2 separate regions of the Homo sapiens genome follow, and region 2 is linked to region 1. Evidence: fine-mapped expression QTL. Tissue or cell type: tibial nerve. Region 1 holds a variant in brackets; the other region holds the start of a gene. All regions are shown on one strand. Distances are between the middles of the regions.

What was found.
Region 2: it holds the start of FMN2, and the variant in region 1 is fine-mapped to the expression of FMN2 in tibial nerve (GTEx, PIP above 0.99).

Annotation. Positions count from the first base shown.
Region 1 is chr1:240,051,123-240,067,336 of GRCh38, reverse strand. No RefSeq gene overlaps it. Among named protein-coding and RNA genes, the nearest start is that of FMN2, 33 kb to the left of the region's middle. The variant G/A (reference allele first, on the strand shown) is at 9,077.
Region 2 is chr1:240,082,561-240,098,774 of GRCh38, reverse strand. FMN2 (formin 2) reads right to left here and starts at 6,892. Exons shown (of 18, transcript NM_020066.5): 1 at 5,051-6,892. The coding sequence starts at 6,665.

The DNA.
Region 1 (16,214 bases):
AATTGTATACATCAATATATGGCTTGGGGTTTTGGGGGACATTTATTTCTTTTTTGCCATACAGTAAAAACCGAGAGTACGGGGACAACCGCTTATCTATATTTGATTTTGTAATGTCTGGAATGGTGCTTTGGCACAAAGTAGGTGCTCAATAAATTCTGACTAAACACAATACGAAGTTTCAGGTAAAAGTGAGATAGCAGAGTGTGACAAAATGCTTCAAATTTACACTTACTCACTATTAAGGTAGCTGGATCAAAGCAAATTGCCTCCCTCTACAGGCATCTTCAAGATGATCTGAAACAAGATTACCATTTCGGTCAAATCTCAAAATGGAAAAATCCAATAATGGTTCATCTCTGTTTCCCATCTGTTCTTGTGTCAGTTCAATTCTGCAGTAGTTGCTGTTGGTCCTTTATGTCCCATCCTGAGTAGCGCTGATGCTTCTGGGTTCATTGACACTTGGTTGTTTCTAGTTCTTCATTTCACACATTAACTGTCCTAGTGAAAAGAACTTGGAAACAAAAAACTTGAGCTCAAAGCCTGATTCCAGCCGGGCACGGGGGTTCACGCCTGTAATCCCAGCACTGTGGGAGGCTAAGGTGGGTGGATCACCTGAGGTCAGGAGTTCAAGACCAGCCTGACCAACATGGTGAAACCCCATCTCTACTAAAAATACAAAATTAGCCAGGCATGTTGGCACATGCCTGTAATCCCAGCTACTCGGGAGGCTGAGGCAGGAGAATCGCTTGACCCCGGGAGGCAGAGGTTGCAGTGAGCCGAGACCCGGCCACTGTACTCCAGCCTGGGCAACAAGAGCGAAACTCCATCAAAAAAAAAAAAAAAAAGCCTGATTCTGTCAAAAGCCAAATAGACTGCACCATGTATGCAGCCCAGGCCAGTGGCTTCCCCTGTAGCAGGACAAGCCACAGACAAAACCCCTCAGACACTGAGTTAAAGAACTAAGGGCTTTATTCAGCCGGGAGCTTTAGCAAGACTCACGTCTCCAACAACCGAGCTCCCCGAGTGAGCAATTCCTGTCCCTTTTAAGGGCTCACAACTCTAAGGGGGTCTGCGTGACAGGGTCGTGATCGATTGAGCAAGCAGAGGGTACGTGACTGGGGGCTGCATGCACCGGTAATCAGAACTGAACAGAACAGGACAGGGATTTTCACAGTGCTTTTCCATACAATGTCTGTAATCTATAGATAACATAACCGATTAGGTCAGGGGTCCATCTTTAACTACCAGGCCCAGGGCGCGTTGCCGGGCTGTCTGCCTGTGGATTTCATTTCTCCCTTTTAGTTTTTACTTCTTCTTTCTTTGGAGGCAGAAATTGGGCATAAGACAATATGAGGTGTGGTCTCCTCCCTTACCCCTTTCTGAATATCCTTTCTCTTGACAGTGATAGGAAAGATATTAGTATCTGCTTTATAGCATTTCTGTGTTTATAAAATGCAATATTCATTTATAAGTTTGGAAAAACTACACAAATGAAAGACATGCTGTATGGCCATAACAGCTATTTCTCTCATTTGTCATGATGGTGCCTTCTAGATTTATTCTACTTCAAGTGTTTGTAGCCCAAAAGGGCTGGCCTCACCTGGGAGCTTGTTAAATATGCAGAATCTCAGGTCTCACCACATCAAACCTACTGAATCAGAGGCTACATTTTAAGAAGGTCTCAGATTATGGTTTGAGAAGCACGTTCTGCATAGAACTGAAGGTATATTAATTTCTTATTGCTGCTGTAAGTCACCACACAACTGTATTACCTTACAGTTCTGGAGGTCAGAAGACCTAAAATCAAGGGGTCAACAAGACTGTGTTCTTTCTTGGGGCTCTAGGGAAGAACTGATTTCCTTACCGTTTGTGTATTCCAAAGGCCACCTGCATTCCTTGCTTGTATCACCTTTCTTCCTTCACTCTGCCCACTGCTTCCATCTTCAGATCTCCTCTAACTCTGAGTTTCCTTTCCATTGTTCTCTAATAAAGACCCTTCTGATTATATCGAGTCTACCTGGACTATCCAAGATAAACTTCCCACCTCAAAATCCTTAAATTTTAAACATTTCTATAAAAGTCCCTTTTGTCATGTGAGGCAACAGGTTCACAGATTCTAGGGGTTAGGATATGGATATCTTTGAAGGTAATTTTTCTGTCTACCACACATACTGTGTGATTAAGCTTAGCTCAATTTCTCAGAAGCGCTTTTCAGAACAGTAGCAGCAGAATGACATGCCCTTATTCATTCATTCTTTCATGCAATCATTGTATTTTTAGAGTGGCAGGGCCTAAATGCTGTCCAACAATTAATCTGTGTTCTCTTTGTCATCACTTTCTTCCATTCTCACCACCCCAAATTCCACCCTCTTCAACTTGCCCACTCCACTATTTCTACTTTTAGTCTCCTACTTGGCCTCCTACTTCACAGAGCAATTACAAACCATCAGACGAGAATGTCCTCAACTTCTTGACATTTTCTCTATTCTCATTTACTTATTCAGCAAATATATATTCAGTGTCAAACTATGGACAAAGCACTGCCCTAGGTTTTCAGATAAAATTGTCATAGGTCTCATGGAGTTGACATTCTACTTGAGAAGAGGTCAAAAGAGAAATAAGGAGGGAAGGAGGGAGGAAGAGAAGGGGAAATATCAGACAGTGAAAAACGCCATGCTGAGAATATGTAATAATGGACTAGGTAGCTATAAAGAGAGTGTGGGCCAGCATGGTGGCTCATGTCTGTAATCCTAGCACTTTGGGAGGCCAAGGCACTTGAGCCCAGGAATTTGAGGAGCCCAGGAGTTCAAGACCAAAATTTATAATTTTTAAAAAATAAAAAAATTAGCTGGTCATGGTGGCATGCACCTGTGGTTCCAACTACATGGGAGGCTGAGGCAGTAGGATCACTTGAGCCCAGGAGGTCAAGGCTGCAATGAGTCGTGTTTGTGTCACTGTACTCCAGCCTAGGTAAGAGAGCAAGACCCTGCCTCAAGAAAATAACCAAAAAAAACAAAAGAAACAACAACAACAAAAAGGGCTCCTGGGAAGGTTCATCAGGAATTATTTTCTTGATCCTAAACTTCCATAGATATTATTTTCTAAAATTAATCTGAGAATATGCTTCAAGGTCAAAATATTCTCCTTTTCTTTCCTACTCCCCTCCCCTCCCACTTTCATAATTGCTCTTTTCTTTCTTTAGAAAAGAAAGCATCATTCTCACCCAACCTAAATCTTAATATGTTGCCTTGCCTTCAGGGTATAACACCTCTGGTGTGCCAAATAAGAGACAATTATAAATATTGGTGGTAGTGTTGGCAATTGTATGTGGAAATAAACAAAGAATACCCAAATAAGAACAAACAGAAGGTATTGATTCAGAGCCTGCCCTGACAAGGGACTCAGCCACCATCACTTCCCTCTGGCAGAGACTCAAAGGTAAGCAGAGGAGTGGGAAAGCTTTATACTGGAAAAAAAAAAAAAAAAAAAAAAAAAAAAAGAAGGCTTCCAGAGTGCTCTGACTGGGGAACTGGGGAGGCTGATGACATGGGGCATCTTACGTGCCTGGTTTCAGGAGCATACAGGGTCCTTCAAAGTTCATGGAAAATGTGTACTATGAAAAAACTATGGATTTCAAAAATTGCTTTCACCAAAATAAACTCATAGTAACTTTTTGTAACATGTCTGAACGGGGGCTGGTTGGACACACTAAGGATAAGGCATCAGTTTGAAAAGAGCCTCTATCAGAGCCACATGAATTCTGCTAAAATTGAAGCAAGAGCAAACATTAAGTGTTGAGTGGGAAAACTGGGAAAAGTGTTGAGTGGGAAAAACTGATGCTTTATGAAAAGTTTACGGGGACAATGCACCAAAGAAATCAGCAGTTTACAAATGGATAACTCATTTTAAGAAGCAAGGAGGCGGCCGGGCGTGGTGGCTCACACCTGTAATCCCAGCGCTTTGGGAGGCTGAGCTGGGTGGATCACAGGGTCAAAAGATCAAGACCAGCCTGGCCAACATGGTGAAACCCCGTCTCTACTAAAAATACAAAAATTAACTGTGTGTGGTGACATGCGCCTGTAGTCCCAGCTACTTGGGAGGCTGAGGCAGGAGAATCCCTTGAACCCGGGAGGCGGAGGTTGCAGCGAGCTGAGATGGTGCCACTGCACTCCAGCCTGGTGACAGAGCGAGACTCCGTCTCAAAAAAAGAAAAAAAAAAGAAGAAGCGAGGAGACAACATCGGAGCTGAAGGCCACAGCAGCAGACCATCCACATCAGTTTGTGAGGAAAGAATTTATCTTGTTCATGCCCTGATGGTTGACATCAGAAAAAAATAGCCAAGACCATGGACATCTCAATTGGTTCAGCTTCACAATTCTGACGGAAAATTAAATTTGAGCAAACTTTTCACTCAACGTTGCCGAAGCCTTTGTGCCCAGATCAGCTGCAGACAAGAACAGAGCTTTCAACTGAAACGTTAAACAAGTGAAATCAAGATCCTAAAGCATCTCCTCAAAGAATTGTAACAGGAGATGAAACACGGCTTTACCGATATGATCCTGAAGACAAGGCACCATCAAAGCAATGGATATCCAGCAGTGGTAGTGACCCAGTCAAAGCAAAAGCAGGGGCTGGGAGTGGTGGCTCACGCCTATAGTCCCAGCTACTAGGAAGGCCAAGGTGGGAAGATTGCTTGAGCCCAGGAGCTAAAGACCAGCCTGGGCAACGTAATGAGACCCTGTCTCTGTTATATAATTTCTTAAAAAATAAAATAAATAAAAAAGCAAAACCAGTCAAGCACAAAGGTCATGGCAACAGTTTTTTGGGATGCTCCAGGCATTTTGCTTATTGACTTCATGGAGGTCCAAAGAATGATAACATCTGCTTATTATAAGCATGTTTTGAGAAAGTTAGCCAAAGCTTTAGCAGAAAAATTCCCAAGAAAGCTTCACCAGAGAGTCCTTCTCCACCATGACGATGCCAATGCTCACTTCTTCTCATCAAACAAGGGCAATTTTGCCACAGTTTCAATGGGAAATCTTTAGACATCCACCTTCCAGTCCTGATTTGGCTCCCTCTGACTTCTTTATGTTTGCTAATTTTAAAAACATATTTAAAGGGCATTCATTCTTCTTCAGTTAATAATGTAACAAAGATTGCATTGATACGGTTAAACTTCTAGGACCCTTAGTTCTTTAGGGATGGACTAAATGGTTGGTATCATCACTTACAAATGTGTCTTAAACTTGATGAAACATACATTGAGAAATACAATTTATATATTTTTTAAATCTTTTATTTCAATTTTCCATGAACTTTCTGAAGTCCTCTTGTGTTTAGCTTTCTCTGGTTGGTCCTGAGTTGGATGGGGTCAAGGAGAGAGGGAATAGGGAGGGAAGCTGGCAGTCATTGACCATTCAACAGCCCTGAATGTTCTGAGTCAATGCTACAGAGGTTGTGGTTTGGTTGACATCCTGGACTGGTTGCTTCAGAGGTTGTGGGTCAGTTGTCATCCAGGGTCTGGCCATTGTCTGTTTGTTTATTCTGTCTCTCATGAAAACTTTTGTCTCTAAGGCTCTGCTCACCTTTAGACGTTCATTTCAGCATAGCACAGTTCCTCTTTCCCCACCTCCAATCCACACCGCCATTAGAAACTCCAAATATACTGACGGATTTATTTACTGTTTTTTTGTTTGTTTGTTTGTTTTTAATGTGCTGTCTACTTCTTCTCGTCTCTGGGGTTGCCATTAAAGCTGTCTGGAAAACTTTTCTGCTCCCCTCCGCCACCCTTGCATTCCGTGCTAAGTTCTACCCAACTTCAGATTGCAGGTTAGAAGTCACTTCATCCAAGAGCTCATCCGGGACCCTTCAAATTTCTCGAATATGCTCTCAGAGCCCCTAACCTTGGCTTCAATGATCACATTTATCACATGTTGTGGCTCAGAAACCAATACCCAACCAATACCCCAAAATATAGCACTTTGACATGTTGAACTGAAGAAGAAGTCTCAAAGTCTATCTGATCTTCCCTGTTCCCCTCTGGCCCCAGGTCTGTCTCTCAGTCCTCTGTCTCTCCCAAAGGATGAGGTTGTTCTCCTTATCCACCTAAAGTCTGGACCTCTCGTCCCTTCCCTGAGTTTTCGTCACTGAACTCATTGCTGGAAGAATGACTGAAGTCTGTCAACACATCTGGACACATTTTCGTCACGAACCATTGTCTGCTCTGCGGGCCCCACAGACAATGTTCCAGACCATTGTATGTGATTCAAGCCCATTAAATTCTCCGAAAAAATCACTTACTACCCCATTAAAATCATCCATACTTCCCCATCTCCCTTTCACCTAAGAAGAAGGGTAAATAAGCATCTATCGCCACTGCATAATGGGGATTTCCCTCTTGTGGCATGCTAATAAATTTGTATACCATTTCTCTCTCTCTGTTTTTTTTTTTTTTTTTTTTTTTTTGAGACAGGGTCTCACTCTATTGCCCAGGCTGGAGTGCAATGGCACAATCACAGTTCACTGTAGCCTTGGCCTCCAGGGCCTGGGTGATCCTCCCACCTCAGCCACTTGAGTAGCTGGGACCACAGGCATGCACCACCATGTCCAGCTAAATTTTTTTTTTTTTTTTTGAGACTGAGTCTCACTCTGTCACCCAGGCTGGAGTGCAGTGGCACGATCTCAGCACACTGCAACCTCTGCTTCCCAGGTTCAAGCAATTCTCCTGCCTTAGCCTCCTGAGTAGCTGGGATTACAGGCACGTGCCACCATGCCCAGCTACTTTTTGTATATTTTGTAAAGACAGGGTTTCGCCATGTTGGTCAGGCTGGTCTCCAACTCCTGACCTCGTGATCCACCTGCCTTGGCCTCCAAAGTGCTGGAATTACAGGCGTGAGCCGCCACACCCAGCCTGCCCAGCTAAATTTTGTAACTTTTTTTTTGTAGAGATGGGGTCTTGCCATGTTGTCCAGGCTGGTATTACAGGCATGAGCCACCACGCCTGGCCTCTCCTATTAATTCGACTTTTGTCAGCTGATTTTCAGTGAACCTTCAGAGGGCAAAAAGGAAGTATTATGGTGGCCTTTACACATATTTCAAAGTGTTTGCCTATTTGCTTGCCTGTCTCTCTCCTCTAGATTTCATACCTCTGAGGATAGGGCAGTGTCTTATTTACTATTATATCTCTAGGACCCCACGCAGTGCCTGGCGCATAGTGGGTATGCCTTAAATGAATTGATATATCTCCCATTTGCATTGTACTAATGGTGAACTGACAAGAAAAGCTAATATATTCTTATGGCCCCTACCTCCAGCAATTCTATATAAGAAGGTAGCAGGAAAACAAATACACAGAGAGAGAAAAGACGATATGGTTGACCCCAAGAAAGTTCAGTGGCCAAAAATCTAAGTGCAATAGAAGTTTAGAGAGAGAGGATGTCCCGCTTGATGGAATGGTTGGAGGAGACTGAATGAGGAGCTTAAACCTCCACATTTTCTCCTCACTACTTTTACAGTTCAGGACAAAAGGCACTTTTTGAGCCCTTGGGCAAGGCAGGGAACAATTTATTTAGTGTCGGTCTTTTCCCAGACTGGGAGCCATCATTCCCAAGAGGAGTTTGGCAGTCTGTCCTCTGACCTTCATTTACAAGGAGTCCAAAGCTTATAATTACTATTGATTGCTGTTATTTTTGCCTTTAGTTTATATCTGATCACAATGAACAAAGACAGATACAGAATTTCAGATTTTGGAAACTGTATAGAAGCCTGCAACAAGTGGATGACAAAGAGGTCCTCCAAAAGCTAGTTTGCTAGTTGCTCTAGTTGAAAAATATATAATAGTGTCTGCTTTCAAAAAGATTTAAAGACATACAATTTCTTTCAAGTCTTTTTTTTTTCTTTTGAGACAGAATCTTGCTCTGTCACCCAGGCTGGAGTGCAGTGGCGCGATCTTTGTTCACTGCAACCTCCGCCTACCAGGTTCGAGTGATTCTCCTGCCTCAGCCTCCCGAGTAGCTGGGACTACAGGCACGGGCCACCACGCCCGGCTAATTTTTGTATTTGTAGTAGAGACGGGGCTTTACCATGTTGGTCAGGCTGGTCTCAAACTCCTGACCTCAGGCGATCCACCCACCTTGGCCTCCCAAAGTGCTGGGATTACAGGCGTGAGCCACCGTGCCTGGACCCTCAAGTCTCATATACCATACAAAGCGAAACAACTGAAGGAGTCTAAGAATCAGGAAGCGTTATGCTTAAACACAGTTTTAAAAAGACTTTCAGAATGTTGACCTGGCACTTTTATAAAAAAGTTCAAATTTCCTGATAGTAGCGCTTACTGTTACTATTTATTTATTTATTTTTGAGACAAAGTCTGGCTCAGGCTGGAGTTCAGTGGAGTGATCAGCAGTCATTCCACCTTGGCCTCTCAAGTAGCTGGGACTACAGGCATGTGCCACCATGCCCAGCTAATTTTTAATGTGTTTGTGTGTGTGTGTGTGTGTGTGTGTGTGTGTGGAGAAGGGGTCTCACTATGATGCCCAGGCTGATCTTAAACTCCTGGGCTCAAGCAATCCTCCTGCCTTGGCCTCCCAAAGCGTTGGAATTACAGGCGTGAGCCACTGCACCCGGCAAGTAGTGCTTATGAAAATACCATAACAAAGATGTAATTTCCCACATGCGAGGAACAATTTTGGTTCTGCTATCACTGTTCCCTTTGACCATCAGGCAAGAGTATGACTCCCGCTCATGTTGGCCTTATTTACTTCAAAGTAAATGTTAGGTGTGTTTATTTAACCTATATTGCTGTGAATTCCCTGACTATTCCTGTTCAAAAAAGGAATTCAGAAAATAATAAGGTTTCAGATGAAATCTTTCAAGGAAGAAAAGAGAATTGCTGTACATGAGCAGAAACAGCTAAGAGTATAGCATGCCGACACAAATAGGAACGCTTACAAGACTAGAAAGCCTTCTGGGGAAATGATTTGGGAGACTGTGGTAAGGAGGTTTATGAATGTTCGTGGGAGGCAGCTCCGAGCATAAAGGTCAATAAAAAACAAGGGATGGAGTTTGGGAGTGG[G/A]TGAGGAAGACAAAGAGCGCAGTCAGAAGATGGGCTTGGACAGAGTAGCCGGCGAGCTGCATGTAGGAGGGTAGAGGGTGAGAAATGCACTCAGATGCCAATAGAATCAGCTCTATATGACGCAGGAGATGCCAAGAAAAGAATGCAAATAAGAATGTAGCAAAACATGGGTGAAATTGTTGGAGCAGGTGGTCTCTCGCTAAAGAGGAAGGGGTAGGGGGAAGCAGTGGGAGTGAAGTGGGGAATATGTCACCATACTTACAATGCACAAAAATGAAATGTGTACATTGATTTTGTAAGATCAAGGCTGTGTATTCTTTCTTCTAAGAGACACTGTCACCGAGGCTAGAGTGCAATGTCACAGCTCACTGCAGCCTTGAGCTCTTGGGTTCAAGCAATCTTCCTGCCTCAGCCTCCTGAGTAGGTAGAACTATAGGCACATGCTACCACACCTGGCTAACGATTTGAGTTTTTGTAAAAACAAGTGTCTTGCTTATTGCCCAGGCTGGTCTTGAACTCCTAGCCTCAAGTGATCCCCTGGCCTTGACCTCCCAAAGCGCTGTCATTACGGGCATGAGCCACTGCTTCTTGCCAATGCTAAAGGTGTTTAAGAAGAGCAGTCAATTAATTTATAATGTTGAAGAAATATCACAAAGTTTGCAAATGAGAAGCACAAGGATTATTTTTTAATGCCAGTAATAAGTTGGATGAGATTGAAGGCGTTACTAAAGACTGAAAAACCATATCAAGAGAGAAGAAGAATTGTATACAAATAAATAGAGGAAATATGGTAGCATATGCTATGTAGTAATTTTGGAATATATGAAATATATTAGTTGAACTGAAACGGTTAAAATTATAATTATTTTGCATATCTGTGCAGCACACATTTAGGTTTGACAAATACAACATGGGAATATTAAATATGCTTTGGTATCAAAATACAAAGAAGTCCATTATAGTTAACTAAATATGTCTTGCTAAAAATTATAATGCAAATGAGCGTTCTTCATCGCTTTGACTGCAGGATCGGATATATATATAGATAATTCATATTCAAAATCTCAAATGCAGCCACCTGAGTGGATAAGAAGAGAAGTAAATATTAGTTCTCCTCTCAATTTATTTGCTTATGAAGAACGAGGCTGAAAATATTGAATACATTTTTATTTTTCTACTGTGCTTTTAAAAGGGAGTTAGTTTAAGAGCCTAAGGGGTTGAAAAAAATATATTGACTGGAAACAAATAGAGATATTTTTTCCTGGAAAACGTATGTCATAATTTATAAAACAAGTATTGGGTTTTTTTGTTTGTTTGTTTTACAATGCTGTGAAAGCTTACATTCAGCTGATAGTGTTTAATAAGTGTCGTTTTCAGACGTTATTATAGTGTGCTGATAATCTTGGCAAAATTCATGAGAACTGTTTAAATGAAACAAATGACAGAGATGATTGTGAGTTCTTGAAAACACGTTTTTGGGAGGGAGCTAAGTGTTTAAATCTCTTCAGTGAGCTCTTCTCCTAGCAGCTTGGCAGTTGCTACCTTGGATGTGTTAGAGACAGATGCTGAAGCCAACTCATGGTTAATGACCTTATTCAAGGTCACTGAATAAATCGGTTTCAGTCCTAGGGCTAGACTTCTAACCACAGAGCCATTATGTGCAGCCTGTCTCCTGAGCTGTGTTGCCATTAATTGACCCTTTAAATACGTTGGGTTTTCAAATCTCATTTAAAAATTCAACGTGATGAAACCATAAAAATGGACTCTCCCTCTCTCTCCCTCTCTCTTTCTCTCTCTGTCTCTCTTTCTCTCTCTCTCACACACACACACACACATAATTTATCTACTTTGCAGCATTGTTTAGGGCTGAGTGAAAATCCAGAAGCTTTCAGATCCAGACAAATCCAGCTTATAGAAATGTGTTGTTTGGCCAACAGAATGTACTCACTTTGGTTTTAAATTAGCTGTCAACATTTAGAAATTGGGAGTTTGGTGTAGTTGGCTTCCTGACTTCTTTTTAACAATTTAAAGATCTGGGGACATTGGTTTGTCTTTTCAAATGGTAAAAATCCCCTGCAGCTGGGTAGCACAAACCCTTTTAAACGGGCATAATTCATCACCATCTCCACTTGGGGGCCTCTTCATAATTTACATTAAGTGTCCAGCCTCTGTAGGCATGTGATCTGGGAGGGACCTAATTATTTGACCAGATTAGAAACATTCAATAGTTTCCAGGCCATTTTCCAGGGTATGCCAGTCAAAGCCTTCATAATAGATCTTCAATTTATCTTTCCATCTTACCTTTCTGCATTCCCCACCACCATCTTTCTGTTTCCATTCCTGAATATAAAAGTACACTTGAGTATAAAGTATACTGTCTTTATCTAAGGTACTCACTGTGTCCTAAGTACAATGCATACATGCTGGTATTCCTGATTTTATGTGTACTCCTGGCTTCCCTTGCTTAAAAAGCCTTCCCTATCCCTACACCCCAGGGCAACCTCCTGTGGAATTTACTATCAGCTCTAATATTCCTTCCTAAATGTAGACTTGAAAATTATCTCCCATCTCCATCTTCTCTGGGGTTCCCTACTTTCTTCTCTTTGATCATCTATCACAGCACTTAGCAACTTGCCTTATGGTAATTTGGCTACTTATCCATCCCACACTGTGTTATTTGCAGCTCTGGCCTCAGGATCTGACTTTCCATTTTCTCACTTTCCTACAGGAGCAAAGTTGTGGCCAGGACCATTGACAGTCCAGTAGTTCGTTCTGGGCTTAGGTAGAGGTACCCTGCAGTTAGCTGGGGTGGTCCGAAGAGGCTTTTGCTGAGCAGACTCTTGCTTGAAGATAGAGGTAATTGCTTGAAGGGAATGTATACACCCTTTCTGATTCTTGATCTTCCTTAATGTGGAGATAGGGGATGAAGACAGGAGTATAGTAGAGTTGCTCCGTATAAGACCTGATCACTTTCCAAAAGGGGCAGGACCACCAGGCAGCAAAACTGTATCATCTGTATCATTTTAATTTAAAAAGGAAAGCAGAGTTCTGGTTCAAGAGCCATCAAAACTGCTTCTGGGCAATATCACAATGTGTCGATCATAAGGAGTTACAGGCCCTGCTTGTAGCCTTTGCTGAACCCAAAACCCTAATCAAAATGATGTGTTTTGGTTTCCAGCCAAGTCTTGCCTTTGAATCTTTACTGAAATAGATTAAGGGAAATTGAGATGTCATATAGACAAGGTCCTGGTCAATGAGCTCAGCTATAAATCAAACCAAAGCACTACAGATAGAAGCCAGGTGTATAACCCATATCTCAAAGAAAATCAACCTCCTTCCCTGCACCCCCTCCCAACCTCGAGGAACTTATATGGTCCTTCATATACTGCCCATTTTGGGCACTGTGCCTTGATGTTTCTGTTATCCAAAAGGGGTTCCGATTCAGACCCCAAGGGGTGGTTTTTGAACCTCACGCAAGAAAGAATTCTGGGCGAGTCCACAGAGCAAAGTGAAAGAAAGTTTACTAGGAAAGTAAAGGAATAAAGAATCGCTTCTCCATAGGCAGAGCAGTGGCATGGGCGGCTTGAGTGAATATACTTATAGTTATTTATTGATGATATGCTTATGCTAAACAAGGGTTGGATTATTCATGAGTTTTCCGGGAAAGGGCAGGCAATTCCTGGAACTGAGAGTTCCTCCTCCTTTTAGACCATATAGGGTAACTTCTGGACGTTGCCATGACATTTGTAAATAGTCATGGCACTGGTGGGAGTGTCTTTGAGCATGCTGATGCATTATAATTAGTGTATAATGAGCAATGAGGATGATCAGAGGTCACTTTTATTGCCGTCTTGGCTTTGGTGGGTTTTGGCTGGCTTCTTTACTGTGTCTTGTTTTATCAGCAGGGCTTTTGTGACCTGTATCTTGTGCTGACCTATCTCATCCTGTGACTAAGAATGCCTCTGGGAATGCAGCGCAGGAGGCCTCAGCCTTATTTTCCCCAGCCCCTATTCAAGATGGAGTTGCTCTAGTTCAAACGCCCCTGACGTTTCCATGATTTCACTGTTTCTGAGGAAGCATTCACTGCCAAGTAACACTGCGTGTCGCCCTCAGCTCTTAAGATCTCTTAGTACACAATACTATCTTTAGCTCTTGGAATATTGACCAAATGCAACATTCATTAGAAGGATGTTCCAGATCAGAAACCCAAGTGGTAATTGGATGGTAATTCCAATGGTTAATTGTGATGGTAATTCCATCACACTAAAAGTACAACTGTGTCCTTTCCATTGTAATTAAGATTCATAAGTAACGATCTTCTGAAAGCAGTATATTAGTTTCAGCATATAATTTTAGGATGCTTCCTATAAAAAGTATCTGAGTGTAATCCCAGCTACTCAGGAGGCTGAGGCGGGAGAATCGCTTGAACCTGGGAGGCGGAGGTTGCAGTGAGCCGAGATCATGCCATTGCACTCCAGCCCAGGCAACAAGAGTGAAACTTCATCTCAAAAAAAAAAAAAAAGGATCAGAGTACATTATTGAACGTTATTGAAAGTAGTTAAAACTCACATTTTTAAAAGTGAAGATAAGGCATCCTATGGTTGTTTAAATCAGAAGTGCCATATTGGTATCAGGGACTTGGGTGTATTCTATATTCTAATTTTGCTGTCATTTGACTTGTCCCTTCCTGGTTTCAAGACAGTTGTTACACTTCAGGAATCAGACAAAGACAATGTCTTACAAAACAAAGGTTAATTATATAAGATCTTTTTTTTTTTTTTTTAAACTAGGGAGAAAACCCAATCTAATAAGTCTCCCAGCAATCTCCCACCAGGTCACATGGGCCACAGTTAGATCTCACTCTTAGCACAAACTGGAAGAAGGAATGGAAATAGAATACACAGCATTTTCAGTCCTATACTTAGCCAGAATGGAGGAGGGGATGTCGGAGTGATGCAGGGAAAGGAGGAAATGGCTATTTTGAAGGCAATCAACAATGTCTACCCATCCTCCAAGAACGCAAAGAATCAGCGCAAAGAATAATTGGTCATTCAGTGTCTTTCAATGCACTACCTATGTTCTGAATTTTTTTGGAGCGGGGAGGGGGATGGAGTCTTGCTCTGTGGCCCAGGCTGGAGAGCAGTGGCTTGATCTGGGCTCACTGCAACCTCCGCCTCCTGGATTCAAGTGATTCTCCTGCCTCAGCCTCCCCGCCCAAGTAACTGGGACTACAGGTATGTGCCGCCATGCCTAGCTAATTTTTTTGTGGTGTGTATTTTTAGTAGAGATGGGGTTTCACCATGTTGGCCAAGCTGGTCTCAAACTCCTGACCTCAAGTGATCCACCCGCCTCCACCTCCGTCTCCCATGGTGCTGGGATTACAAGCATGAGACACCACGTCCTGCCCGATGTTTCTAATATTAAAGGCCTTTCACTAACGTCATTTACATTAAGTGCTTGTTTCTTACCTACTCATATTCTGATCTGATTTCTGTCTAACTTTAAACACTAGACACCATACCCTGACTTCAATCTTGCTATTGTCTACTTCTATTTGATGTTTGAACTAATTACTCGAATGTTTCACTCCCAACTCTTTCTCATGGACTTTCAGTTTAGCCTTAGATTTCTGACTTCTGTACTCCAGATTACTTTGATGGGTGACTTAGTTTGCTGGGACCCCACAGTTAGCATTGGCTGCCTGACAAGAGCAGATGGATTTCACATGCCCTCCCATCCCCAACAGTGTCAGCACAGAGCATTTGTACCAAGACACCAGGTGGAAAACACCATGGAAAACTTGGGACCATCCTCTTTTCTGTTTCCACCTGTGATAAGAATTACAAAGATACTATTTAGGGACAAAAGGATTCTAAATATTATAAGAAAAGAAACTTACAATAATAGAAAAGCAGACAATTGTTTCCCTACCCCTACACTTAAAACAACACTTCGGGAGGCTGAGGCGGGTTGGGTCACCTCAGGTCAGGAGTTCGAGACCAGCCTGGCCAACACAGTGAAACCCCGTCTCTACTAAAAATACAAAAATTAGCCGGGAGTGGTGGCACACGCTTGTAGTCCCAGCTACTCAGGAAGCTGAGGAAGGAGAATCGCTTGAACCTGGAAAGCGAAGGTTGCCATTAGCTGAGATCCCACCACTGCACTCCAGCCTGGGAAACAGAGCGAGACTCCATCTCAAGAAAAAACAAACAAACAAACAAAAAAAACCAAGAAGGTTCCACATATTCTGTGACTCCATTTCTATAAAACGTACAGAATAGGGAAATCCACACAGCAGAAAGTAGATGGGTGGTTGCCAGGGTCTGGGAGAGGTTGTGGGGAAATGGGGAGTGACGGCTAATGTGTACAGGTTTATTCTGGGGTGATAAAAATGTTCTAAAATTGGCCGGGTATGGTGACTCATGCCTGTAAGCCTAGCACTTTGGGAGGCTGAGGCAGGTGGATCACCTGAGGTCAGGAGTTGGAGACCAACATGATGAAACCCCGTCTCTACTAAATACAAAAAATTAGCTGAGCGTGGTGGTGCACACCTGTAATCCCAGCTACTTGGGAGGCTGAGGCAGGAGAATCGCTTGAACCCGGGAGGCAGAGGTTGCAGTGAGCCAAGATTGCACCATTGCACTCCAGCCTGGGCAACAAGAGCGAAATTCTGTCTCAAAAAAAAAAAAAAGTTCTAAAATTGGTTGTGGTGGTGGTTGCACAACTTTATGAATATAATAAAAGCTATTGAATTGTACACTTTAAATGGGTGAATTATATAGTATATAAGTTATATCTCGCTAAACCTGTTTTTTTTAAAAAGAACTTAAGATTTTGAAAAGTGTTATTCATTAGATTCCAGTGGTGTGATTGCAGCCTCGTAATCCACTTCACCAGCTTGCAAATGCTTGACACATTACTAAAGAAAAGATGAGGATTTGCCGATACTCTGGTGCTATAGAAGTATTTCTATTCTTCAGTGTTCAAACCAAAAACTGTGAATCCGCTGGATGAGTAGGAAAAGCAGAGGACATAATGTTCTTCAGTTAGACACTGTCTTTTTTTTTTTTTTTTTAAATTGAGACGGAATCTTGCTCTATTGCCCAGGCTGGAGTGCAGTGGTGCCATCTTGGTTCAT
Region 2 (16,214 bases), 31 kb before region 1:
TGCACTTGACTTCAATCCAAACCACAGGCCTAAAGAAACCATGAGAAAGGATGTTTCAGACCCATCTAAAATGATTGAAGATCAGTGTTCTGGTCCCCGCTTACATCGCCAAATTCTTCTCTGATATATGGAACCCAGTAAGGCAGTATTTAGGGGAAAGCATAGCATTCATATAAACCCCTTTCCTTTTATAATAAGACATTTTATACGTATCAGGCAGATTCTGACCTTCATTCGTCAGACATTAACTGGACATCTATACTCTGTCAGGGGCTCTGCTGGAAATCAAACTACTCCTGGCCTTAAAAAAATCCAATGTAGCAATTTACCAAGCCGTATGAGAAAATGTGTACTCCTAGAGTGGGTTCTTCCCTCTACTGATATAAAAATCAAGATAGGCCTCCTAGCACTTGGGGAGGCCAAGGCAGATAGAACACCTGAGGTCAGGAGTTCAAGACCAGCCTGGCCTACATGGTGAAATCCTGTCTCTACTAAAAATACAAAAATTAGCTGGGTGTGGTCATGGGCGCCTATAATCCCAGCTACTCTGGAAGCTGAGGCAGGAGAATTGCTTGAACCCAGTGGGCGGAGGTTGCAGTGAGCCAAGATCACGCCACTTCATTCCAGCCTTGGCGACAAGAGTGAAATCTGTCTCCAAAAAAAAAAAAAAAAAAAAATTCAAGATAACCTTTAGAAAGGCCAAAATCAGAGTTGCACAATCCAAGTTCTAGAGCCTATGCACTTTATTAATTAGCTAGTCCTCCAAAAGCTCAATGATCTACTTGGTTTCATCTTATACATATTAACAACAGATTTGGTTTTCTAAGGACATATCCTGGATGGGCCACTTACTAGCTTAATGCCCTTAGACAAGAAGTTACTTTACTGTCTGAGCCTGGGTTTTTTCATTCGAAAAATGAGGATAAACAGCTACACCTCAAGACTGTTGTTAAGGATTACAGATAGTTATGTAATGCACCAACAGAGTCTGGCACTTAGAAGTACAATAAGTGTAACCAATATCATAATTACAGGAATTGTAAGCCAATTGCAAATTGATCAGAAAAGTCAAATTACAAAAAAATTGAGGGACAGGAGCAAAGAGACTAAAGACAGCTATAGCCGGGCGCGGTGGCTCACGCCTGTAATCCCAGCACTTTGGGCGGCCGAGGCGGGCGGATCACGAGGTCAGGAGATCAAGACCATCCTGGCTAACACGGTGAAACCCCGTCTGTACTAAAAATACAAAAAATTAGCTGGGCATGGTGGTGGGCGCCTGTAGTCCCAGCTACTCAGGAGGCTGAGGCAGGAGAATGGCGTGAACTCAGGAGGCGGAGCTTGCAGTGAGCAGAAGTCGTGCCACTGCACTCCAGCCTGGGCAACAGAGCGAGACTCTGTCTCAAAAAAAAAAAAAAAAGGCAGCTATAACAATAAATAGCTGGCAGCAAGAAAACAATCAAGAAACTACACAGACACAAAAACTCAGAAACTACAGACTGAAGCCAACAGCCCACACACTTCAATAGCTGTTGAGGACATCACTAATGTTTTTATAAGATGTAACAATGATGTGCCTGAAGATGACATTAAGCCCTTTAAAACAGATTAAACTTTTATTCCATGTGTTTAAAAAAAAAGATAAGCACATAATTGACTTGGGAAAGATTCCTATCAAAAGCGATTTAGCATCACAAATTTAACACGTTGGATATCTAAACTTTAATTAACTGCAAAACTCCAGTACCAAGCTTCTGTTATACTTAATATGTAAAGGAACCTCCCGAATTTCAGACGCCATTTTTTCTACTAAACACTGAAAAAGATGTATTTCAAACACATTAATTATGAAATACTTAAATGCAATGGCCTAAGGCATCATCAGTTTCTTAATAGCTAAAACAAGATAAAGTTTGGTCTCCCTCATTGCTAAATGTTTTTAGATCTACCAAAGAGACACAGACATGTGCCATAGAAATCCCTTTTCACTTGTATTTTCTCCCTACATTTGGAAGGCGGTAAAAAGCGAAAAACATCTGTTTCTTCCTGTAATGCTGACAACCCTCATTCTATGGTTTAAAAATAAAAGATGCTTATGGAAGCTTATAGATATAATGATCACCTGCTTCAAAGGCAGCTGGCAATTAATTGATCCAAATACATGCAAAATTAAGGCCAAAAAGAAATTTCCCTAAGGACAATGCCAGTGTTCCCCAAGCCTCTGGTAATTTCCAAGACACCCGTAAAAAAATAGCAGAGGAGAGTAAAGAAGCAAACGTAGTGGCAGATGACATGAAGAGTTGACAGCTGAGACACAAGGGCCTGTGTCAATCTGGATTCATTTGACCACCATAAGAACAGTTTCCATGAGAGCTGCTTAGAGAAAATCTGGTTCACTCTGGCCAACAATCACCCTTCATCCAGCTCAAGGAAGGCCAGATGTTCAACCATTAAAGGAGGACACCTTATTAAAAACAGGAACTGGAAAATCTAATTAAAGAAAGGCCCTAAATCTGATCACATTTTTTATAAACAGTTTTTACTCTCTATATGGCCTTAAAACATTGTATATCCAAACAGAAATAATAATGACATTAGACTTGATTCATTGACTCAGTTTCTATTTCTGGATCTGCCTCTGAATGAATCACAGTGTGACCTTGAGAAAGTTATTTCACCTCTTTCTCTATCTACATTTTCCCACCAGTTACAAAGTTAGGTAAAACCTACTGATCCTCTTTTCCTGAACAATGCTGAGTGAATGACATAAACATACGGAAGCTGCTACACAAAAATATATTTGCTGATTACCAACCAGCTGTATCCAACCATCAAATACAAAATAGGTGATGTCCTTATAAAAACGACTAGCTCTGCAATTTTACTTTGCACAATTTAAAAAACAAATCACCTGGAGAGGTCAACAAAACCCAGGTGGTTCCTATACAGGACTCTTTTAAGAGTCCCAAATTTCAAATTTGGGAATACTTAGCAAATTAAACTAAAATGCAAGTTCCAAGAAGACACTTGTTTTTTTAAAGGAAAACAAACATTCAACCTATTTAGGGTCTTGTGATCTTCCAGGACTCTGTTCAATCCTCCTCTCTCAAGTCCTCTTCCCTCACCCCTTGCCACCAAGCAGATAAGCCACTGCATCCGTGATGTTCCCAGCAGTGATTTGCATGTCTATATCTATACAGATATTTCTGTGCACTGCACTTATGTCATGTCTCCTCCTCACTAGTCAGCGAGCCTTAGAAAGGCAAAATCATGATTTAATGGTCTATGTATCACCTACATCTAGAATACTGCCTAGCACAGTGTGCTACTATTTAGAATACTGCCTAGCACAATGTGGCTGCTCAATGTGTGTGTGTGTGTGTGTGTGTGTATGCACATATATGCTTACAAATGTATATACATATATATATTTGCTAAATGAATGAAATAAATAAATTTCCAAAGTCTTATGCTAGTAGGAATAGCTATCATTAATATTAATGATTGATAATCATTATGGTGAATTATTTTCACTTTTCAAAAACTATATACGTGAATGTCACTTAGATAAAGAGAAAATATGTGATTTCTTACCAACATTAAATTCACAAAAATTAATGCAAAAACTTTCCAATCTTCTTCTATCAAAAGTGATCTTTCTTTTTTATTTGTTTTGCATTTTGTTTTTGTTTTTTTACAATTTATCTAGTGGGTATAAAACTACAAACATTCTTTTTAACAATCTACACAATAAAGAGAAGGTGGAAAAGAAGAAAAATAAGAGTATGTGAAATGAATGGAAGAAGCTACTTTTAAGGGTAAGACCCTATAAGGGCAAAATAAAAGGTGGCCCACAGATGAAAATTAAAATGTGGTCAATAAAAGTAGCTACCCCAATATTACCAGCATTTAGTCAACTAAGAAGTCGCTGTCTGTGCCGAGAAATTTCATCTAAGCAATGTTTTACAGATAATGTATTTATTAAAATAATAGAACATAAGATTTTAAAATTTTCAGATTGCATTTGAAATGTTTAATCCTTCAAATATTTATCATAAACCTATCAGTAGTCATGTAACTTTTCATATTTTTCGATTCATTAAATTCTAACACTCTATTTCATTTAATAATTAAGAATAGAGGTTAGGTAAACATGTTGGGCTCTTAAGGTAAGGCCTTGGGCCCTGTAAGCCTGTAAGCTAGGATAAACTCATTGGACTGCTTGACACTGACCAGAGCAAACATACTCTGGCTGTGCTTTATGCCGCCCTGGGTATGAGTCTATAACATATGCTAGGGAGGGGAGGTACCAGTTGGACTAGACGTGCTTTTGACCTTTCCACCTTCACTGTCTCCAAACTACAGGCTGTTCTGGGCTGGACCATGAAACTGAATGAAAATTATCCCTACTATTCTATTTATTTATTAATTTTCTAATAGCATGTATCGGATTTTCTTGCAGCAGCAAACAGCAGTGAGTGACCGCTTAACTTCACTAAGCAGCGGAACCCAGACTGCTGCAAGATAGAAACTACATATCACATACATACCAAACGTGGACAAATACACACAGCTATGAGAGCGGTCAGAGACTGCCTTTGGATCGTACCGGAATAAATGATTTGTGCCTCCAAAACCGACTCTTGCGAAAGAACCATGAACAATTTTTTTTCTTTTTAATGCTGTGGTGATGAAAAATGAAAGAGAAGAATGATGGTTTAGCTAACGAGACGAAAAAGGAGTTTATCTCCCTGGCGTGACCCGAAACTTTGTGAATAGCAGGTATTTTGGTGAAATGGGCAGAGCAACTTAGGACAGACACAACTAAGTTGTTCCCTTTAAGATCTTGTAAGAACACAGAAAACCAACAAGTATGTCCAAGTCATTTCACCGTGGGGGGTGAGCTCGCTGGGCGGAAAAGGATTCCCTACGGAGAAGAGATGTGCCACTACCAGGTCACCGCCTTCCAGAGCCCAGGGAGGGCGGGTGGCAGGGGAAGGCCCTGACTGACAGGCGACTTGAGACCCGGAGGCCAGCAGCAGGGCGCGCTCACCTGTGAACACGTTCTGGAAGCCATCCGCAGCCGCGGGGGCCCCAGACGCCTTGGCGGCCAGTGCTGGGGACACCCCACCGCCGCTGTCACTCGCCACCCCGCGCTCCAGCAGGTGCGCGGAGCCTCCCACCCGGGGCGTGCGGGCGCCTAGCTCCTCCGTCCAGTCAGCCGAGCGGCTCAGGCCGGCCGCAAGGCCGCCGTCGGCCCGGTGCTTCTTGGCCGGGGCGGCTACGGAGGCCAGGGCAGTTCTGGACCCTCGGCTCAGGGAGGGTTCCGGCCGCCTCTTGATCCTGGGGCTCTGATTAGGGGACTGAGACGGGGAGTGATTGGGCGAGCTGAGCTGCCGGGTGGTGGTCTTGATGTAGCAGGGGGTGATGAGCGGGTAGGGCTTGAAACAGCGCTGGCTAGGCGCGGGGCTGCCGGGCAGGGAAGCGGCCGCGGGGGCGTCAGGTCCTTGCGCCTCCTCCTCCGGCTCTTCCCCCAGCCTCTGCGGGGCGTCCTCTCCCACCTCCGGGGCCCACTCCTCCCCCGGAGAGCCCCGGGGCGCATCCTCAAAAGCATCCTCCTCACCCTCCTCATCCGTGTCCCCAGCCCCTCGCACGGGGGCTCCGGCCGCTTCCTCCCCCGGCCCGGCCTCGGGAAATGGGAAAGCCGTGGAGGAGGGCGAGTCTTTGGCCGCGGGTTGCGCTGCCGGGAGACTGGGCGCCTCGGAGACCGGGAGGCCGCCGGGGGACGGCGGTTGCTGGGGCTCCCGGGGCTCGGCGGCCAGGCTCTCGGGCAGGTCGGAGAGCGCGGACAGCGCCTGCTCGGTGTCCGGACTGCCCGGGGCCTCCCCAGCCCCGCCGCTCGGCCCCAGCAGGAACCGGTCCAGGCCCAGGAAGGCCCCGGGCTGAGGGGAGACGGCAGTGGGGGGCGCTGCAGGCTCCTCGGCGCCCTGGAGCTGCTGCTGCTGCTGCTGTTGCTGGAGCTGGAGCTGGAGCTGCTGCTGCTGCTGCTGCTGCAGGCGGATCGCCTGCTGGATGTCTGAAAGCAAATCCTCTTGCTCCGTAGCCGAATGGAAGCTATAGATGTCCGTGTCCGAGCCCGAGCTGGTCCTTTGTCCATCCTGCGCCCCTGCTGCAGTTTCCACATCCTCGGCGATCGGCCGGCCCCCGACCCTAGCCTCGGCAGGCCCAGGACCCCCTGGACCGGTCACCTCAAAAGGGTCCGCACACTCGGTATCCGACAGGCCGGCCTCGTCCGCCGAGAGGCTGAGGTCTGGAGTCTTGGTGAGCAGGGAGTGAGCGCTGTCCAGCTCCCCGGTCTGCAGGGCCTGGGAATCCAGTACATCTTCGCGGGAGCCGCCGGCGCCTTTCCCCTTGGACAGATTCTTCCTGATCCGCAGGTTGGAAAACACCGAGGCTCTGGAGTCGGACTTGCTCTTCTTCTTGCCCGACTCCCCGCCGCCGCCGCCGCCCCCTCCCCCCTTGCCGTGCTTGCCTAGCGCCTTCTTGCCCCCGCTCCCCTTCTTTGTGGCTTCCACATCCCTGGGCCCCAGCGCATCCTCGGCGCCACCGCCGCCTTCGTGCAAAGCATCACCTGCGCTCCTCTTCAGCTTCCCATCCTGGTTCCCCATGGTGCAATCCCGCTGCTGCGCCGCCGCGCCGCGGGCACTCAGGCCATCCCGGCCCTCCTCGGCCCCAGGTCCGGGCCTAGGGAGTCTCCCGGGAGAGTCAGGCGGCGGCGGGGGGAGCCGCTGGGAGGGGAGGCCGACGCGCGCCCGGCTGGCCCCGCTCGCATCTGCCGCCGCTTTGCATAATGCGCGGCGGCTCCCGTGGCTGCCGTCGCTGCGGCTGCGGCTGCGGCTAGGGGCCGGCGGGGCGCGAACATGCTCAGTGCAGAGCGCGGCGCCCACCAATGGCTGCGCAGAACGCAGCTCGGGCCTGGCTCCCCGCCCGCCGCCGCCGCCCCCTCTGCCCCCGCGCGGCTCCTCGCTGAACCTGGGCGCGAAAAACGTTTCCTCTATCTCGGGGACTTTAATCTCCACCGTGCGAATCGAATGCATTGTCCCCGACCGAAGAGATCGTCAGCTGGAAGATGCACTCTGATCTTCAAAGCTGCTGGACCTGCCAAGAGAAAAGTTAAATAAAAAAGAAGAAATTTTTACACGGAGAAAAACTGAAGCCCAATTCCAGTTTAGAGGTGCCATCGGGTCACAGCCACATACACAACCCCCTGTCTGCCTCTGCATGGCTGTTCAATAAATATTTGTTGAATGAATGGATTGTTCTGTTTCTTGAATAATTGATCATCTAATTGAACACTGTTAATGTGCTTGAGCATATGGTTTAGGAGAGGTTACTACACATGGTGCTGCTTTTATGTTTCACACACAGACCCTGCTTCTCCAGGAGAGGACATTAGCTGTCATTTATAAAATTGGTTTGTGATTTTTTTGTTGTTGTTGACAGAAGGAGAGGTAGGAGAAGTAGAAAATACTGAGATTAGTGTTGATTAAAATGCTAGTCTCCAAATTCTATGTGTTTACCATATAAATTAAACAGCATTTGTATTCAAAAAGGGTGCATATACGATAACTCCCAGGAGGTCAAACTCATCAATATTAAACATGTCACTATTGTGGCTGCCTATAAAAAGGAAAAAGACAGAAAGGAAACACCCTTGGCACAAACACACAAAATCAGATGTTATGCTATAAACTACCACTTTCCCAAGCAAACCCTTCCAGGCAGACTTCGTCCTGTAAAAGTTTCTTAACGTTCTGGCCACAATATGGGGATAAACATTTTTCCTCATTGAATATTTTGTCATTGTTTTCATTATTTATTAAATTTAGTTACCTATTTTTTAAGAATAGTTTTTTTAAAAAAATATGGATATCTAAAGCTTTAAGCAGTAAACTGAGATTAAAGTGGCATTAATAAGTTTTACAAGTATTTAAGTAAAAGTCATTGATAACCACTTTGAAAATATGGAATAGACATCCAACTTATTAATATTTTCAAAATAACCCAGAGGAGGGAGAAAAGCTATATATTATACTGTGCAACTTAAATGTAGCAAGCAAATGTGTAGTCTTCCTTTGCATATTATGAACCAGCCTTTAAAATTCTTTTTTAAAAAAGGTTGGTCTTGTAAGTCTTTGGTTACTAACCTTTTTCAAACTATGTTTTTAAAAATAAATGTAATTTAAGGGCAGTTAGCCAGTTATCCTTAGGTGGCCCTTTCGAGTAAATGCTTTAGAGAAATCAACTTTAATAACTTTGCCAGGGTTATATCCCAGTCTCCAAGCAATTCCGGAGTACATGAAAAGCCTTTGTTTCACCTCTTTCACAAGACTGCTCTCTCCTTTTTTCTAGAATCTAGGCTCCTCAGAGGGCACAATTTGCCTGCAGCTATTAGAATTTTCTGCTTCTTTGAGTGCTGAGGTACTTTGAATCTTGATTTTTGCTCTTTCTTTAGCAGAACGTCTTTGATTCTGAACTACTGATTTCCTTATTGTTTTCTTCTGTGCTATATTCTAGACGTTCAGAAGACAAAAGAAGGGAAAGAAGGAGGGAGGGAAAGAATTGATGATTTTTTTTCACAGTGACAGTTGTGCAGCAGGTCACAGCTGACAAATCTCTATTGCATGCAAAGGCTCATTTGAAATTCACAAGTGTGGGTATCAAATACACATAGGTGCTCTTAACTCAAGGATAATTGAAGCATGAGCTCAGGCTCAGAGAGGCTAAGAGATTTGTCCAAGATCACATAGCAGCAGAAAGAATACTGGAACCTGCAAATTTAGACCACAATTTTTTTATAACATAAAACACTGCATAGTTTACTCTTGGGGGACCGGTAAGGATATCATAAAGGCAAACTACAAAGCTTTGCCAAAGGGTTCTTGTTATTTAATAGCTATTTAGTATTCCTAAGGATGCCTGAAACATGGCCTAACCTTAATTCCATTTGATCAGGTAAGAATATCATATCTGTGGTTGCAAAACTAGATTTAACAGATAATTAGAGATATTACCTCACGCCTGGCCACATCCTGGTAGCAAGACACAGACGAGAAACAGCAAAAGTGACCAGCCTCTATATTGATGTATCTAGAGTAATTCTAGTGTAATTATCAATAAAAGTCTTCAGTGTTAGCATTCCAAAATGGTCACAAAAACTATTTTTATAAAATAAAGTACCACCCATTTTCCCACAAAGGAAATTGGATATGGGCTTTAAAAATTCAATTAGTAAAAGTAGGTTAGAAAACTCTAAACAAATATTGAACTCTAGCTGAGAATATGTATGCTGATGTAGTTGGCTTAAGTGTACTGATTTTGGCAACTTATTCTAAACTGCATCAAAAAATAAGATACTTTAACAGATGCATGGACAGATATGTGATAAAACAAATATAATAAAATGTTAATTATATAATTTACATGGTAGATATATGGGTGTTCACTGGGAGCTGCCTTCAACTTTACTGTATGTTTGAAACTTTCTCTTTTTTTTGAGACGGTCTCATTCTGTCACAGACTGCTGTAATATGATCACAGCTCATGCAGCCTAGAGCTCCTGGGCTCAAGTGATCCTCCCACCTCAGCCTCCTGAATAGCCAGGACTACAGGCATTTACCACCATACCCAGCCAATTTTTCAATTTGTTTTGTGGAGATGAGGTTTCCCTTTGTTGCCCAGGCTGGGCTTAAACTCCTGGGCTCGGGAGATCCTCCTGCCTTTGCCTCCCAAATTGCTAGGATTATAGGCATAAGCTACTACACCTGGACTGTTTGAAACTTTTCATGCTCAAATGTTGAAGAAGAAAGTGGGTTACAAGAATAGATGCGTGGCTGGGCACGGTGGCTCACGCCTGTAATCCCAGCACTTTGGGAGGCCGAGGCGGGCGGATCACAAGGTCAGGAGATCGAGACCATCCTGGCTAACACGGTGAAACCCCGTCTCTACTAAAAATACAAAAAAAAAACTAGCCGGGCGTGGTGGCGGGCGCCTGTAGTCCCAGCTTCTCCGGAGGCTGCGGCAGGAGAATGGCATGAACCATGGAGGCAGAGCTTTCCAGTGAGCCAAGATCATGCCACTGCACTCCAGCCTGGGCGACAGAGCAAGACTCCATCTCAAAAAAAAAAAAAAGAATACATGCATTTCCCAGATTTTTTGAAATTAAATTATGTAATGGTTGATAGCAATTAATAAATACTAAATGGCCAGGCGTGGTGGCTCACACCTGTAATCCCAGCACTTTGGGAGGCCGAAGCGGGCAGATCACAAGGTCAGGAGATCGAGACCATCCTGGCTAACACGGTGAAACCCCGTCTCTACTAAAAGTACAAAAAATTAGCCTCGCGTGGTGGCGGGCACCTGTAGTCCCAGCTACTAGGGAGGCTGAGGCAGGAGAATCGCTTGAACCTGGGAAGCAGAGCTTGCAGTGAGCGGAGATCGCACCACTGTACTCCAACCTGGGTGACAGAGTGAGATTCTGTCTCAAAGAAATAAAAATAAAAAAGATACTAAATGAATCTTCCTCTCCTTCACGATTACCTGTCTGTCAGAATTCCATTTCATTTCCTTTTCTCTCTTCTTCCAGCTCTCTTCCTCCTCATTTACCCTCTTAATTGACTATAAGATACACTGAAATGTTTCTGATACTTGGTGTTTTGCTCTGTTTTGTTAGTTTTTATTTCTGCTTAACCTTGGTGGAATGCTTTAGAATCTCTAATAGAACAATTAGTTTGCATCTTAATTATCCAACTCATCCATTTCTCTAGCAGGTGAATGACACTTTTTTGCCCTAGTGTCAATTACTAATCTTTTGCCCTCCAAAATCCACCTCTCAGTCCTGACTTCACTCCAACACACTCGACTCCTGAACCTACTTCCTAGAGAACACCATGCCTCCAGTCAAATCCAATGTCTCTGCAACTGAACTCATATTTTCTTTCATATCTGTTCTTCTTTTGTTTTTTCTTTGAGTAAGAGCGCTACAATCCCTCCAGTTTCCCAAACCAGTGTTGTTGCTTACTCCTTCCTCTTCCCCAGTCCCTATAATTTACCAGTCACGAAGACTTCTCTATTCTTTTTTCGTAATGTCTCTTAAATGCATTCATGTGTCCCACCCCAAGTGCCACTTCTCTTGCCTCCTTCCCACCCCCACCTCCAACTCTCATCTGCTCCTTCCCATTATCACCAATGCTTCTGGACTGGGGTGATGATTTTGCTCCCCAGGGAACATATGACACTGTCTGGAGACATTTTTGGTTGTCACAGTGGGGTAGGGGGATAATGTTACTGGCATCAAGGATGCTGCTCAACAGCCTCCCCCGACCACCGCGCCCCATAAGCAAGAATGATTCAGCCCATAATATCAGTAATCCCGTGGTGCAGACACTTGCTTTAGCATGAAGACTCTCACAGCTGACAGTCAATAAATGTTTACTGAAGGAGTGAAATAAATAAGAAATTAAAATTACATTTCTCAGTTAACTGAATTAAATCAGGAACTTAAAGGGAGAACCAGTTAACTGAATTAAATCAGGAACTTAAAGGGAGAACCAGTTAACTGAATTAAATCAGGAACTTAAAGGGAGAACCTAATGGAACAAATCAGATTTTAAATAGTCTATCTACAGTACCAAATATCTTAAATAGAGAATTAACTCTTCTCTAACGCACTCTAAGTTCTAAAAACTACACAATCTATATAAATATTTCAATTCCCAACATACTTGGTAACATTATAAAAAGTCCTTGCTCATACCAGAGATTTCCTGGTCACTAGAATGGAATTCCCAGAGCTCATTTTGCAGTGATGATTATGTGTATGACAAACAATTAGTTATATAGCTTTCCATTTGTACCACCATTATTCATTTTATCACCAATGCAGAACTTAAAGTGTTTATACAACAGAGAAAAAGTGAAATATTCCTCTCCCCAAGCAATACAGAATGCACTACAAGTTTGTTTCTACACTGGAAAAAATTTAAAGGTAAAAAATTCTAGGTCACTTAAGTTCCTCCCTGCTACAAATGAAACATAAAAGCCATTGTCTCCTAACCTCTGGAAAACTCACTAGCTTCCTCTGAAAAATTCCCTCTTCATTATATAGGCATACTTTCGCATTCAACGCGTATTAGCCAAAACGTTTATGGATAATTGGCAACCGAGAAACAAAAGAAGACATAAAAATATTTATTTTGTTCTTATGTCACAGAGAAATTCCTATGAAGCTAAAGAATTCTGGTATTGAATTTCTAGACATATATACCCTTTCTAAGTGAAGACATACCATTTCTGCCACTGTGCCCGGCTTTGATTCTCACTTTTTTCTGTGCCCAAATATTTTTCTTATCTATTTTGCTTGCCTTAATCCTTCTCACCTCCTTTTCATTTATTTTTATTTTTATTTTTTGAGATGGAGTCTCACCCTGTCGCCCAGGCTGGAGTGCAGTGGCGTGATCTTGGCTCACTGCAACCTCTGCCTCCCAGATTCAAGCGATTCTCCTGCCCCAGCCTCCCGAGTAGCTGGGATTACAGGCACCCGCCACCACGCCCGGCTAATTTTTGTATTTTTAGTAGAGATGGGATTTTACCACGTTGGTCAGCCTGGTCTCAAACTCCTGACCTCCTCCTGACCTCGTGAGCCGCCTACCTCGGCCTCCCAAAGTGCTGGGATTACAGGCGTGAGCCACCGCGCCCTGCCTTTCACCTCCATTTTTATCATGAATTTCAGCTTCTCCAAGAGGCCTCCTTTAAAGTAGGTTATTTCCCTGTCTTAGAGCATCTGTCTTAACCTTCAAATTCTTGATCACAATTGTAATTATATGTTTGATTATTGACTTGTTCATTGTCTGTCTTGGCTCTTACCCATTACAATGCAAGTTCCCTGAGGGCGGGAAGCAAGTGTGCTTTATCACCACCATCACCTGCTGGCAAAGCGCTTAGAACTCAAATATTCTCAATGAATCACGAACAAAATCAGGAGTAAAACAAATAGGTCAGGCTTCAAGCAATGCTTTTGAAGCCCTCTTTCTATTTTTTTTTTTTTGAGACGGAGTCTCGTTCTGTCACCCAGACTGGAGTGCAGTGGCGCCATCTTGGCTCACTGCAACCTCTGCCTCCCGGGTTCATGCAATTCTCCTGCCTCAGCCTCCCGTGTAGCTGGGATTACAGGCACACACCACCACGCCTGGCTGATTTTTTTTTTTTGTATTTTTAGTAGAGACAGGGTTTCACTATATTGGCCACACTGGTCTCGAACTCCTGACCTCGTGATCCTCCCACCTTGGCCTCCCAAAGTGCTAGGAGCCACCCAGGCGTGAGCCACCGTGCCCGGCCTCTAAGCCCTCTTTCAAGTTATTTTGTTTTGTTTTGTTTTGGAGACGGAGTTTCACTCTGTCACCGAGGCTGGAGTGAAGTGGCATGATCTCGGCTCACTGCAAGCTCTGCCCGCTGGGTTCAAGTGATTCTCCTGCCTCAGCCTCCTGAATAGCTGGGATTATAGGCACCCCCTCCATCACACTTGGCTAGCTTTTGTATTTATTTTTAGTAGAGATGGTATTTCATCATTTTGGCTAGGCTGGTCTCGAACTCCTGACCTCGGGTGATCCACCTGCCTCGGCCTCCCAAAGTGCTGAGATTACAGGTGTGAGCCACTGTGCTTGGCCTCAGGTTCTTTAAATATTGAAGGGAGTTGGCACTTTGTGGGAGTTAAGATAACATATCTTAGAGACTAGCGGGCTGCTTTGTACCAAGGGCTTGAGCTGTACCCACCCACCCACTTCCATCCCTACAGCTGAGATTGATTAGTTGGACGCTCTCTAAGCCATTGTTGCCTGAGGCCCATAAAACTATTGCCTCGATGAAGGCAAGTTAGCCGACCCTGAGCCTTTCTCCCCAGGAATCCCGGAATCAACAACTCTAGGATGTCTAAAGACAGGAAATTTTAAATTGTAAAAAAGACAACCCAATTGCTCAATTGCTCTTTTTATTTTTATTGTCATTTAAAAATCTTATATTTAATTGTTTTTTATCTGCCATAAATGAAGTCCCAGGAGCTTTAGTGGAGCAGAGGAAGAAACAGCTAGAAGATGTTTCCTTGGCTAGGAAGTGCCTGAAAGACTAGATGAGCACTAAAGCACTAAAGAGTTGCAGCAACCTTTCATGTGTTGTCTGAGCAAGGAGAGGCAGACTTCCAAATTAGTTTTCTTATCCTCCCCTCCTAATCTCTGAGTGAAAGATTTAAAGTGTTGTCATAGGTACTGATAAATTAATCCCAGTAAGCAAGTAATACAATCACCTTTCCCTTAGACTCTGGTGACAGATTTTGTTTGTTTGTTTGTTTGTTTGTTTTGAGACGGAGTCTGGCTCTGTCTCCCAGGCTGGAGTGCAGTGGCACGATATTGGCTCCCTGCAACCTCTGCCTCCTGGGTTTTAGCGATTCTCCTGCCTCAGCCTCATGAGTAGCTGGGATTACAGGCGCACACCTCCACACCTAGCTAATTTTTCTATTTTTAGTAGAGACCGGGTTTTGCCATGTTGGCCAGGCTGGTCTCAAACTCTTGACATCTGCCCGCCACAGCTGCCCAAAGCGCTGGGATTATAGGTGTGAGCCAGCCAGCATGGCAGACAGATGTTTCTATACCACTACGAGAAACACTAGCTATGTTATGGATGGTAAAATTGTCTGGCCGGGCATGGGTGGCTCACGCCTGTAAAACCAACACTTTGGGAGGCTGAGTTCGAGACCAGCCATGGCGAAACCCTGTCTTTACTAAAAGTACAAAAATCAGCCTGGAGTAGTGGTGGGCGCCTGTAATCCCAGCTGCTTGGGAGGCTGAGGCAGGAGAATTGCTTGAACCCAAGAGGTGGAGGTTGCAGTGAGCCGAGATCACGCCATTGCACTCCAGCCTAGACGACAGAACGAGACTCCCTCTCAAAAAAAAAAAATTCCCTTCCTAGTGATCACCTTTATACAAATGAAGCTCCAATAAAGATGTGTGAAATCAAATTTCCCACTAGCCTTCTCCTGCTCTTCTGAGGAAAATGAAGCTGATGCAAAGCTCCTCTTTGAAGGTACCGCTTTGCATTGCACAAAAACCCAACAACCAGCCATTTCCTAGTGAAGTCTACATTATCTGAGGGCAGTTCCCTGGAAAGATCTGCAGTGAGAGATGTGAGTTTAAAACTCCCTTTCTGATCAGAACAAGTTTCCCCTAATGCCTGTGCAGAAGTGCAAAGGATGAAGGCATTTGTTTTATAGTGAGCAAGCAAGCCATTGCCCCTAACTGAAACATTTGTATTTTCTACTTCACCTTTTTCTGGCCTTTTTCCATATGGTGATAACTGCATTGGCTCTTACATTCTAAGAGAAAGTGCTGATGCTTAGAATTCAAAGTGTGTGTGTGTGTGTGTGTGTGTGTGTGTGTATATATACTTTTATATGTATATACTTTTATATATATACTTTATATATATGCTTTATATATATACTTTATATATATATACTTTATATATATATACTTTATATATATATACTTTATATATATATACTTTATATATATATACTTTATATATATATACTTTATATGTATATACTTTATATATATATACTTTATATGTATATACTTTATATATATATACTTTATATGTATATATTTTATATATATATACTTTATATGTATATATTTTATATATATATACTTTATATATATATATTTTATATATATATATACTTTATATATATATATATTATATATATATATATATATATATATATATATATATATATATATATACACACTCTTTCTCTCGCTGTCTGAGGTTTCAGTGAGCCGAGATCGTGCCACTTCACTCCAGCCTGGGTGAAAGAGCGAAACTCCATCTCTAAAAACCAGAAGATTTTAGGGAGCAGTGTGATTTAAATCAATATTAAGAGCGTCTTCATCATGCATTAAAATATGCATGGACAAACTAATGTCTATTAGGAAAAATGTGTAGGCCAGTTGTTATTGGTGTTATTCTCAGCTTACTGAAAAATCCATGTATTTGGCCAGCTTTTTGTGGGGAGCCTTTATTTTACTAGTTAAGGCAGAAAAAAAGATTACTGAGCCCAGAATGCTCACCAGAATATGCTTGCCTCTCTTCTGTACATATTTATA